Regions from separate parts of the Homo sapiens genome. Here region 2 is linked to region 1. Evidence: fine-mapped expression QTL. A gene starts in region 1. The other region holds a variant in brackets. All regions are shown on one strand. Distances are from middle to middle.

Evidence for each region.
Region 2: its variant is fine-mapped to the expression of KDM2A in whole blood (TOPMed, PIP above 0.99).

What each region holds. Positions count from the first base shown.
Region 1 is chr11:67,116,441-67,121,738 of GRCh38, reverse strand. KDM2A (lysine demethylase 2A) reads right to left here and starts at 2,476. Exons shown (of 21, transcript NM_012308.3): 1 at 1,690-2,476; 2 at 381-505. The coding sequence starts at 422. It overlaps LOC107984341 (a long non-coding RNA gene), which reads left to right and starts at 3,391. Exons shown (of 2, transcript NR_160735.1): 1 at 3,391-4,505. RefSeq lists silencers at 1,335-1,424, 1,950-2,089, 2,270-2,339, 2,480-2,919, 3,100-3,379 and 2 more and an enhancer at 2,990-3,039.
Region 2 is chr11:67,068,898-67,074,261 of GRCh38, reverse strand. It overlaps RHOD (ras homolog family member D), which reads right to left. Exons shown (of 5, transcript NM_014578.4): 4 at 3,703-3,837; 5 at 2,245-2,827. The coding sequence ends at 2,660. Among named protein-coding and RNA genes, the nearest start is that of RHOD, 15 kb to the right of the region's middle. RefSeq lists an enhancer at 1-341. The variant G/A (reference allele first, on the strand shown) is at 2,524.

The DNA of each region.
Region 1 (5,298 bases):
TGAACTATCCTTCCTCAAACAGCTTTGCCCCCAAAATTTATATTCTAATCTAACGTAATCAGATGTATTACAATGTCAGTACTGTAAAATCAGGAATCTTTGTCACATTGTAATCCACAAAATCCTTTGGTATACAATGGTTTCTATAAAAGCTAAAGGCTACATATAACTCCATTTCCAAACAAGATAAATATATAAAATATAAAACATGTTTGGCCAAAAGCCAAATTCGATATTAATACACCTTTCCCCCTCCTCTGGTGCACAGAAAAGTCACCCGAAAAGTTTTAATCACAGATTCACAGTATATTCACAACTGGAAACAAAATAGTTATCCTACTTTAAAACTGGAGGGTGTGGTGGGGGGAGAAAATACTAACCAATCTCTGGCTGTAACGAATCCTTTCTTCTTCGGGTTCCATCTCTCACTCTTCTGTTGAAATTACTGTAAAGAAACCACTCCAGGGCTGCCTTCCTCTTCCTCCTTAGGAACCAGATTGCAACACTAAAGAATAATGATATAAGCAGAAATGAGAACTCATTCTCAAACTTGTGCTTTCTGTTCACGGAAAGGAGTATTTAAGGTAAGTGTTAAAGGCTCTCTGAAAAATCAGGTTCCTCTTCATGAGTTTGGGACCTTTCTGCTCTTGGGCAAGTGGTTCCATGTCATGTTCAACATTAATCACATTACAACTGTCGGAGGCCTAGACGAAACGAGATGTTGGTTTCAGTTCCTTGTGGAAGGGCCACACCACCAGTTTCTCCCCACAGGATTACAACTAGCAAGGATCTCCTTCATGGCAGCATCAGCAAGAAAAAAAAAAAGCCCAGGACTTTTATCTCCAGAGAGCTGACCAGGTGAAGCACCACTGAACTAATCCAGATCCTAACCAAATTAGTTCTCTCTCACCGGTAATCAGAAACTAAAGGAAAGAAGGGCAAACTGACTATGTAAAAAGAGGACAAAAAATTAGGATTTAAATGACCCCAAAACAATTTCCCATACCCCTCCTGTAAGGCCGTGCACAATCGTCGCCTTCCTTTCTAGACTCCCCGGATCTTATCATTCCCAAATCTACCCTCCACCCCAACACAAGATGTGCACAACTCTGAAACAAATTTCAGAGGTGCAAATCAAGGACCAAAATTCCATCTGATCTTTTTGGATAAAGTAATAAAATAAACGATTGCATCTAAGGATACAAGGAAAATACATCTTGTCCAAAAATTAAATAAAAGACCGGCCGGCGCGACGGTCAATCCGTAATACCAAGAAAGGGTTTTCTTTTTTCTAAATATTCTCGTGGATAATGGCTTCCATTGAGAACACAGGTTCCCCCCGTTTTTGTCACTACATTACAGCCACGTTAACAGCATCCTTTCAAAACTGCTACGAGACCAGAGGACCCGATGACACAGTTTGCAGAGCAGTTAGAGGCAGAGCCCTCCCGGAGGAAGCCCTGGCCCGAAGTCGGGAGGGAAACCGTGCTTGCACCCCCTGGGCGACGACCGCCTGGGCATGGAGCAGCCAGGGCCGGAGAGGAAAAAGGGCGAATCTCGCTGGGCTCCCCCAGGAAAAGGCGTTTCAATGGTTCACCCATCGGAAAAAGAGATAGAAACTTTGCATTCAGTCTTTGGATAACACAGTCAACCAAACTTCCAAATGAGGGGGGGGAGGGGGAAACTCACCGGAGATTCTGCTCTTGAGTTCTTGTCCAAGTGAGAAGTAAAAGATTCCAAAGCTGAGAGGAATAATTAAATCCCAAACGTCGTCTTCGGTTTTTCCGTGGATCAACCCAGTATCCAGAGAGGGTCAGAGCGACCAGGAAAAGGGAGCAAACAGTTGCTGAATCAAACCTTCTCTTCTGGCTTTGGAGACCGGGAGTCGGAGGCGTCAGGAGAGAGGAGCGCGACCCCTCGGCGCCGAGCCCGGGGCGCCCCCGCCTCCCCCAGGCCAGCGGTCAGCAGCCCGGGCCCGAGCCCCGGGCCGGCCCCGGCCGCAGGGAGCGCCCTCCTCGCCGTGCCCTCGGCCAGCAGGGGCTGGTCGCCTGCGGGAGCAGCGGCCGATCAGCTGAGACCGGCCGGCCCGAGGCTCCCCGCGCCGCCCCGGCCCCCCGGAACGCGGGCCCCGGCCCCGGGGGGCGGACAGGGCGGGAGCGGCGCGGCGCGCCGGGATGGGGGCCCTGGCTCCCCTCGCGTCTCCCCCTCAGGTCTGGCTCCGCGCTGCGGGACGAGCCCCCCGGCTACTCCCCAGTCGCAGAAGAGGGATTCCGGGGGATGGGCCCCCTGGCGTTGCCCCTCCTCCCGGAGCGTCCCCTGCCCAGGAAAGACAGAGCGGCCACGGGCCCAGCCGCTGGGAAGGTGCTCCGAGAGCCGCCGCCGCCGCCGCCGCTGCCGGGGAGGGGTGTTGTTTCCCTCACACAGGAGGAGCCGCTGAAGCAGCCGCCGCCATTTTGAACCCGTCAGACTCTCACATACACACAGCTCCTCCGAGGCGCACTGCGCAGGCGCCACCTCCCCACCCCTCCTCCAGCTCGCCTCTCCACCCCCCCACCCCCTTCAGGCCTCCCTGCGCTTCTTACCGCTCTCCCGGGCGCGCGTGAACGCGCACGCGTCACTCCCCTCTAACGCGGACACACCGCCGGCGCGCGCACGCGCGGATGCGTCGGCCTCGAATCGCCCGCGCCCCGCGACGCCGACGCGGCTCCCTGCGCCCCCTCGCGTCAGGCCGCCCGCCCTCCCTCCCTCCCGCCAGCCCGCCGCCCCCGCTCCCCGTCGGCGTTCTTCCAGGGCTCGGGCCTGGCTGGCTGCTCGCGCCTGCGCGCAGGGCACCGATCCTCCTCCGCGCGCCCTCCCCCCACACACCCTCACACACACTTCGCCTCTGCGACCCCGCCCCTCGCGGCCAGCTGTGCTGGCCGCCCTCCCCCACCCCCCTGGGAGGGTGGTGACCCCCGACCCCCCACAAAGCACATCACCCCCCCCAAGCAGTGGGAGATCTGCGTCCCCTTCCCCTTCAACCGCCTTTGGCCCCAGGCTGCCCGTCACAGTCACACAACCTGAGGGCCGGGAGGCCTGGGCCAGGGCAACCGATACCCGCCTCAAAGCAGGGTCTCCCGGGGTCAAGCCGCCGGGCTGGGCCCGCGGGACCTGGGCTCCCGGCTCAGGCCTGCCCAGGGCGAGAGGGCGCAGGGAAGGGGCGCATGGCCGCCGGCTGCCCTCCCTTCGCGTGCCGGCCGGTGGGCCGAGGCCGGCTTGCCCGCCATTCCCGGGCAGGCCCCGGCGCCGCCGCCACGGGGCCCGTCTGCCCTGGGCCCGGGGGCTCCTCGGTGCAGCGGCCTGGCCCCGCCTCACCCACTGCTCGTCGCTCCGAAGGGGCAGGAAACAGGAGTAGCATGTCTGTCCTGGGCTCGGCTCCCCGGGGGTGCTGCAGGCGCTTAACAAGGGCGTCCACAGGTACCAGGCGCAGAAGCGGTCTCCGCGACGGCCCGGGGGCGGTGGCGGCCGGCGCGCCCACCGCCGGCCGGAGGCGCCCGGCGAGGTGGCCCAGGAAGCCCCCGCTCCTCGGCCACGCTCAGCTTTCCGCCGCGCCGGTGCCCCCGGCGGCCCGGGTGGGACGTGACCCCGCCCCCGGCGAGTCGGGGCGCCCCCCACGGAGGGGTGCGCGGGCCGCCCCCGGCCCCCGGCCCGACCCTGCCGCCCTGGGCCGTGGCGGGCGCGGGAGGCCCGGCCGGGAAGATGTCTCCTGTTGGTGCGCGCAGCTTCGCGCGGGGGTCAGCGACGGGGCAGCAGCCGCCCGAGCTGCGCCGGCCCTGCCCACGGACCGACTCCCGCGGCCCGACAGCTGCCCGACGGGCCAGCAGGCTCCGAACGTCGACGGAGCCCGGCCGGAGGTACCCGAGCAGTGCCATGCGAGCAGCCCAGCCGCGATCCGGGCATTTCCCCAGCCAATCTCTTGCTCTGGGGCCCGTTTAAATTCTAAATCCCACAAAGGACGGTGGCTGGGGCGTTACACATCGGGGTTGGCACTATTGGCTCCACTACGCCCTTGCTGAGCGGTGTCACACAAATCTTTTTCTCCCTGCCTTGGTTTCCCACTCTTTAAGCTCTGACTCCTGGAAGCAGGGAATGGAGCAGAGAGGTAGGGCATGGAGTGAATCATATAACCTGCATAAACAGCCATCAACTCTTTCAGGAGGACGTTAGCGAGACAATTAAAATAATGATACCTTCTAATTCTATCAAGGCTTGAACTCCAAGGTAAAAGCGCTACGTAAATGCAAGGTATTATTATTTATTACCACAGAAGGTTTTTCTGCATGCACAACTTGGGGAGTTTGTACAGACATTCTCTGCTTTGTTTCACAACATCCTTAGGAGACAAGCTAAAGTGCCTGTTAGCGCTATATTCATTTTAAAGATAGACAACTGAAGTATAGAAAGGTTAAAGAGCTTGCATAATTACTCCAACAGCCGACTGAAACATCTCACAAACAGCAAAAAAGGTTTGTTAATAAGATATCATCTTCTTGCGTTCTAGTCACTGGGAAATATTCTTTATTTTGATACCAGTTTTGTTCAGACTTCTTAGATTTTCAGAGCACTGATACGAAGAAGATAATCACAGAAACTGTATCAGATCTAAAGCCTCTTTAAATCTTTCCGACTATGGTAAAGTATATTTTAAAAGCAGCAGTCTCTCACACTGGTGCTACCAGATATGGCCCCATAAGCATCTGGCTCTCTGTAGTTATAGAAAAAGTCAGCAGCTCGTTTTGTTTGTTTTTTAAGCAGGAGAGAAAGCTTTTGCCATTGTCAGATTAAGTGTTGGGCCTTGTTGCTATTTGCAAAATAAACAGCTTTATTTCCTTCCCACTCACCCTTATAACCCAGGGAATACTTGGCGGCAAAGAGAAAGTCTCTAGGAGTAGCTCAACTTGGTCTTGCCCTTTTTCTTAACATTCAGACCCCCTTAAGTAATTAACCCTCAAGGAGGTGAGTTGCACACCCTTGGCAATCAGATACCTCCAAGTTTAATTCAGATGGGCATGCTGGGAGAACCCTAGAAAGGCTTTAGAACAGGCCGGGCGCGGTGGCTCACGCCTGTAATCCCAGCACTTTGGGAGGCCAAGGCAGGTGGATCACCTGAGGTCAGGCGTTCAAGACCAGCCTGGCCAACATGGCAAAACCCTGTCTCTACTAAAAAAAAAATACAAAATTAGCCGGGCGTGGTGGTGCATGCCTATAATCCCAGTTACATGGGAGGCTGAGGCAGGAGAATCACTTGAATGCAAGAGG
Region 2 (5,364 bases), 48 kb after region 1:
GAACTCTTGGCCTCAAGCAATCCACCTGCCTTGGCCTCCCAAAGTGTTGGGATTACAGGTGTGAGCCACCGCGCCCAGCCGAACTGGACCATTTCTTTTGCGCTGATACACATGATCCTTAATGAGAACCAGCTGCTGACACCTGTCCCGGAAGTTTCATCAGAAACAGCTCCAGGTGGGGGACTGCTTCAGCAACGTGGGGCCTCACAGCTCAGATTACAGGGCCGAGCTGCCGCAAGTGAAATAGTGTTAGGGGCCAACGTGGAAAACCCTACCTAGATTCCAGTCCCCACTGTGAGGTTTCTTTTTTTAAAATTTTTATTATTTATATATTTTATTTTTAAATTATTATTATTTATTAATTTATTGTTATGGTTCTTTTTTGAGACAGAGTTTTGCTCTTGTTGCCCAGTCTGGAGTGCAGTGGCGTGATCTCGGCTTACTGCAACCTCCGCCTCCCGGGTTCAAGTGATTCTCCTTCCTCAGCCTCCTGAGTAGCTGGGTTTACAGGTGCCCACCACCATGCCCAGCTAATTTTTTTGTATTTTTAGTAGAGATGGGGTTTCAACATGTTGTCCAGGCTGGTCTCGAACTCCTGACCTCAGGTGATCTACCCTTCTCAGCCTCCCAAAGTGCTGGGATTACAGGCGCGAGCCACCACACCAGGCCCCACTGAACTTTTAATCTCACCTGCTCAGGGATGGGAAACAACTTTTCCCAGCTTCCATTTCCAGCCTGATTGCTCTTCCCCTAAGCATACCCTGCACCCAGAATATTCTTCCCTATTCTCCCCAAGCCTAGTGAGCTTAACCTAGCTCAGACAGCTCTCCTCTGTAACTTCCCTGTGTTCTTGGAGCCCTTGATGGTTTTGCTGTTATGCTTTTTATGCAGACTTCTTGCAGATTTTTCTTCTTGCACAAGCCTCAACTGCTCTGAAGTCAGAAGTCAAGATCCTTTTTTTTTTTTTTTTTTTTTTTTTTTTTTGACAGAGTCTCGCTCTGTCACCCAGGCTGGAGTGCAGTGGCGTGATCTCAGCTCACTGCAACTTCCACTTCCCGGATTCAAGTGATTCTCCAGCCTCAGCCTCCCAAGTAGCTGGGATTACAGGGACGTACCACCACATCCAACTAATTTTTATATTTTTAGTAGAGACCGGGTTTCACCATGTGACCACTAGGCTGGTCTCGAACTCCTGACCTCAGGTGATCCATCCGCCTCAGCCTCCCAAAGTGTTGGAATTACAGGCGTAAGCCAACACACCCGGCCACTTTTTTTTCTTTTTTTTTTTTTTTTTCTGCTTTGTAGCCCAAGCTGGAGTGCACTGGTACAATCGTGGCTGGGACAGGTGTGCCACAGCACCTGGCTACACCTTTTTTTTTTTTGAGAAGGAGTCTCGTTGTGTTGCCTGGGCTGGAGTGCAGTGGTGTGATCTCGGCTCACTGCAACCTATTCTCCTGCCTCAGCCTCTGGAGTAGCTGGGATTACAGGTGTGGGCCACCACGCCTGGCTAATTTTTGTATTTTTAGTAGAGATGGGGGTTTCACCATGTTGGTCAGGCTGGTCTCAAACTCCTGACCTCGTGATCCACCCACGTCGGCCTCCCAAAGTGCTGGGATTACAGGCATGAGTCACTGTGCTCGGCCCTGGCCGAACCTTTTGTGAGCACTTACTGCGTGCTAGGCACCTACTAAGCTCTTTGCGTGTGTTGGTCCTCATGACCCTCTTACTCATCCGAAAGTTCCATGGCTTAGTCTGTGATCCATTTCACAGGTGAGGAAGCTGAGGCCCAGAAGAACTTGCCCAAGGTCGTGGAAGCAATAAAGCTGGTTTGGATCCAAGCAGTCCCATCCCAGTGCCTAGATGGGGTGGGCTTTTACCTACCTTGGAACGTGTGTGTAAAGACACCTTGAAACAAGAGGCATAGGCAGGGCGTGGTGGCTCATGGCTGTAATCCCAGCACTTTGGGAGGCCGAGGCGGGTGGATCATGAGGTCAGGAGTTCGAGACCAGCCTCACCAACATGGTGAAACCCCGTCTCTGCTAAAGAAAATACAAAAATTATCCGGGTGTGGTGGCGCGCGCCTGTAATCCCAGCTACTCAGGAGGCTGAGACAGGAGAATCGCTTGAACCCAGGAGGCACAGGTTGCAGTGAGCTGAAATGCGCCACTGCACTCCAGCCTGGGCGATAGAACGAGACTCCGTCTCAAAAAAAAGAAAACAGAAAAAAGAGGCACGACACAATGATAAGTGATGTCGTTTTTCTTGTTACAGTTACCAGTATGACAGGTGGGAAGGGGCCGGGTGTGGGTTCTGGCCAGAGGGACCTAAGAACATTAGGTCCTGGCAGGTGCAGCCCTGGGAGCAGCCACGAGGGGGCATCAGGCTGCACAGGCGGCTCCAGGATGTCGGTCCGGGACCGGGCATAGGGGTTAGCGAGTGATTCTCGGGCACCGCAGGACGAGCCCTACACAGAGCAGGTGGGCCCAGGAACCCCCTTTCTCAGTCCAGGACTCCCAGGCCTCA[G/A]GGCCTGGCTTTGGTGGCGCCCGTCTGTTGCAGTGGAGTTCGGCGGTCACAGCCTAGGGACCGGGTCCAGCCCAGCCAGCTCAGCAGCAGGTCAGCGCCCTGCCCCTTCCCGCGTCGCTGGGACGCCCCGAGCCGCTCAGGTCACCACGCAAAAGCCCTGGGTAATCCGCCGCCAGAAGTTGCGACCGCGGCTGCTGAGGGCCACCTCGGCGGCCTCCTGGAAGACGGCGTGGACGTTGTCATGGAGCCGAGCCGAGCACTCGAGGTAGGCCACCGCGCCCACGGACCTCGCCATCTCCTGGCCCTAGAGGGAGAGGTGGATGGGGCTGCGGTGAAGGGGGCACTGGGCAGGCCTCACGTTCTCGCTTCCTTTTCCCGGACAAGAGTGGAAGGTGGGGTCTGCGGAGCACCCATGGCTCCCGTATCCCTGCTTGCCCAAGCGCCCTCATGCACTTCATCATGTTTGTTTTTCTTTTCTTTATTTTTATTATTATTATTTTTTTGAGACGGAGTCTTGCTCTGTCGTCCAGGCTGGAGTGCAGTGGTGCGATCTCAGCTCACTGCAGCTCCTCCAACCGGGTTCAAGTGATTCTCCTGCCTCTGCCTCCAGAGTAGCTAGGACTACAGGCACCCGCCACCACACCACTTGGCTAATTTTTTGTATTTTTGGTAGAGACAGGGTCTCGCTATTTTGCCCTGGCTGGTCTCGAACTCCTGACTTCAAGTGATCCACCCACCTCGGCCTCCCAAGTGCTGGGATTACAGGCGTGAGCCCCTGCGCCCTGCCAGCCTTCGTTGTTTTTAACCTCCGTTCTGGGCCTCTTTGCCTCTCAAGGCACCAAGAAATGAACTTCCCATGAACCCAGACGTGTAGCAGAGAGGGACCCACGGTCTGAATATGTGGGTGCCTGCCTGGGCCCCCTCTCTGGGTCTCAGGTTGGTGGTGGAACTGACTCTGATATGCCTACTTCCTTGTTCTCCCTTTTGCCTGTGGAGGCTCCCAGAATATTCTAGGGACCATTTCTAAGTGCTGGAAGTTTCTGACCTCTGACAGCCTCTAAGACGACCGCAGCTCTGACCTACACCCTGAGCGTTCTGGACACCTGGTGCCACTGAGAGGCATCCAGAGGTCCCCTCACTCAGTCCTCCCCAACTCCCACCTCGGGCTGGGTTTCCTACCCTGTGGTAGGTCACAGGCTCCAATCCGTTTCTTCGGAGCTTGTTCACCAGTGATTTGTCCTTGCGCAGGTCAGTCTTGCAGCCCACGACGATGATGGGTACCTTCTTGCAGAAATGATTCACTTCTGGGTACCACTGCAGGGGGGCGAGGGGGCATGTGGGGGGCATGTGTGAGCCCTGGAGAGTTCTGGCCCTCTCAGTGGACCACTCTCTTGCTCCCCAGCCTGAGCTCTGATATGGATAATCAGCAAAGCCAGCACCTAGGGAGAAACTATTTGGTACCAGAACCTCATCTAAGAATTTACACGTATGGACCCATTAATTCCCCGAGGCCGTGGCAGCAAGTTCACAACCAATCCCACTGTACAGGTGCGGTAACTGAGGCACAGAAAGGCGATGTAACTTGGCCTTGGCTGGAAATGGCAGGATTTGAGCCTGGGGGTGGGGCTCAGAACCCTGCTCCTGCCGTTCTAGAATCTTTCCTCTCTGCAGGGTAAGGGCCCTCATGGACACCCACCAAACTGAGCAAAACATATAAGGAAGTAAGGGATCCTTTAAAAACAAATCTGGGCCAGGTGTGGTGGCTCACGCCTGTAATCCCAGCACTTTGGGAGCCTGAGGCAGGTGGAACACCTGAGGTCAGGAGTTTGAGACCAGCCTGGCCAACAGTGAAACCCTGTCTCTAGTAAAAATACAAAATTTAGGTGGGCATGATGGCGGGTGCCTGTAATCCCAGCTGCTCGGGAGGCTGAGGCAGGAGAATGGCATGAACCTGGGAGGCGGAGGTTGCAGGGAGCTGAGATCGCGCCACTGCATTCCAGCCTGGGCGACAGAGTGAAACTCCATCTCAAAATAAATAAATAAATCAATTAAAAAGATAAAAATAAATCAATCAATCCAGGCCGGGCTCGGTGGCTCACGCCTGTAATCCCAGCACTTTGGGAGGCTGAGGGCAGGCAGATCACCTGAGGTCAGGAGTTCGAGACCAGCCTGGCCAACAAGGGGAAACCCCGTCTCTACTAAAAATACAAAAATTAGCTGGGCGTGGTGGCGTGCACCTGTAGTCCCAGCTACTCTGGAGGCTGAGGCAGGAGAATCGCTTGAACCTGGGAGGCGGAGGTTGCAGTGAGCTGAGATGGAGCCACTGCACTCCAGCCTGGGCTACAGAGTGAGACTCCGTCTCAAAAAAATAATAAATAAATAAATCTGCTCACAAAATGGTTGCAGCAGCTGTCTGCCTCAACTGCTTGCCTGGTGGAGGGAGGGCTGCTCTGCAGAATGTGAGGCCACCAGGGCCGAGTTCTTTCAGCCTGGACTACAGCTGGGGAGCCGGGGATCCCGGGAGGGGGCTTCCTATCTCCAGGAGCACTAAGTCGGCTGAAGTCGGCTGGTTTGGGCATGAAACTTGCCTGATAAAAATTGGCATCAGCCGGGCTTGGTGGCTCAAGCCTGCAATCCTAGCTACTCGGGAGGCTGAGGCAGGAGAATCGCTTGAACCCAGGAGGTGGAGGTTGCAGTGAGCCCAGATTGTACCACTGCACTCCAGCCTGGGAGACAGAGTGAGACTCTGTCTCAAAACAAACAAACAAACAAACAAACAAAAATTGGCATCAAACTACCTCATTCCTGGAAGCAAATGGGGCCTTTGTGGGGTCCCTGGCA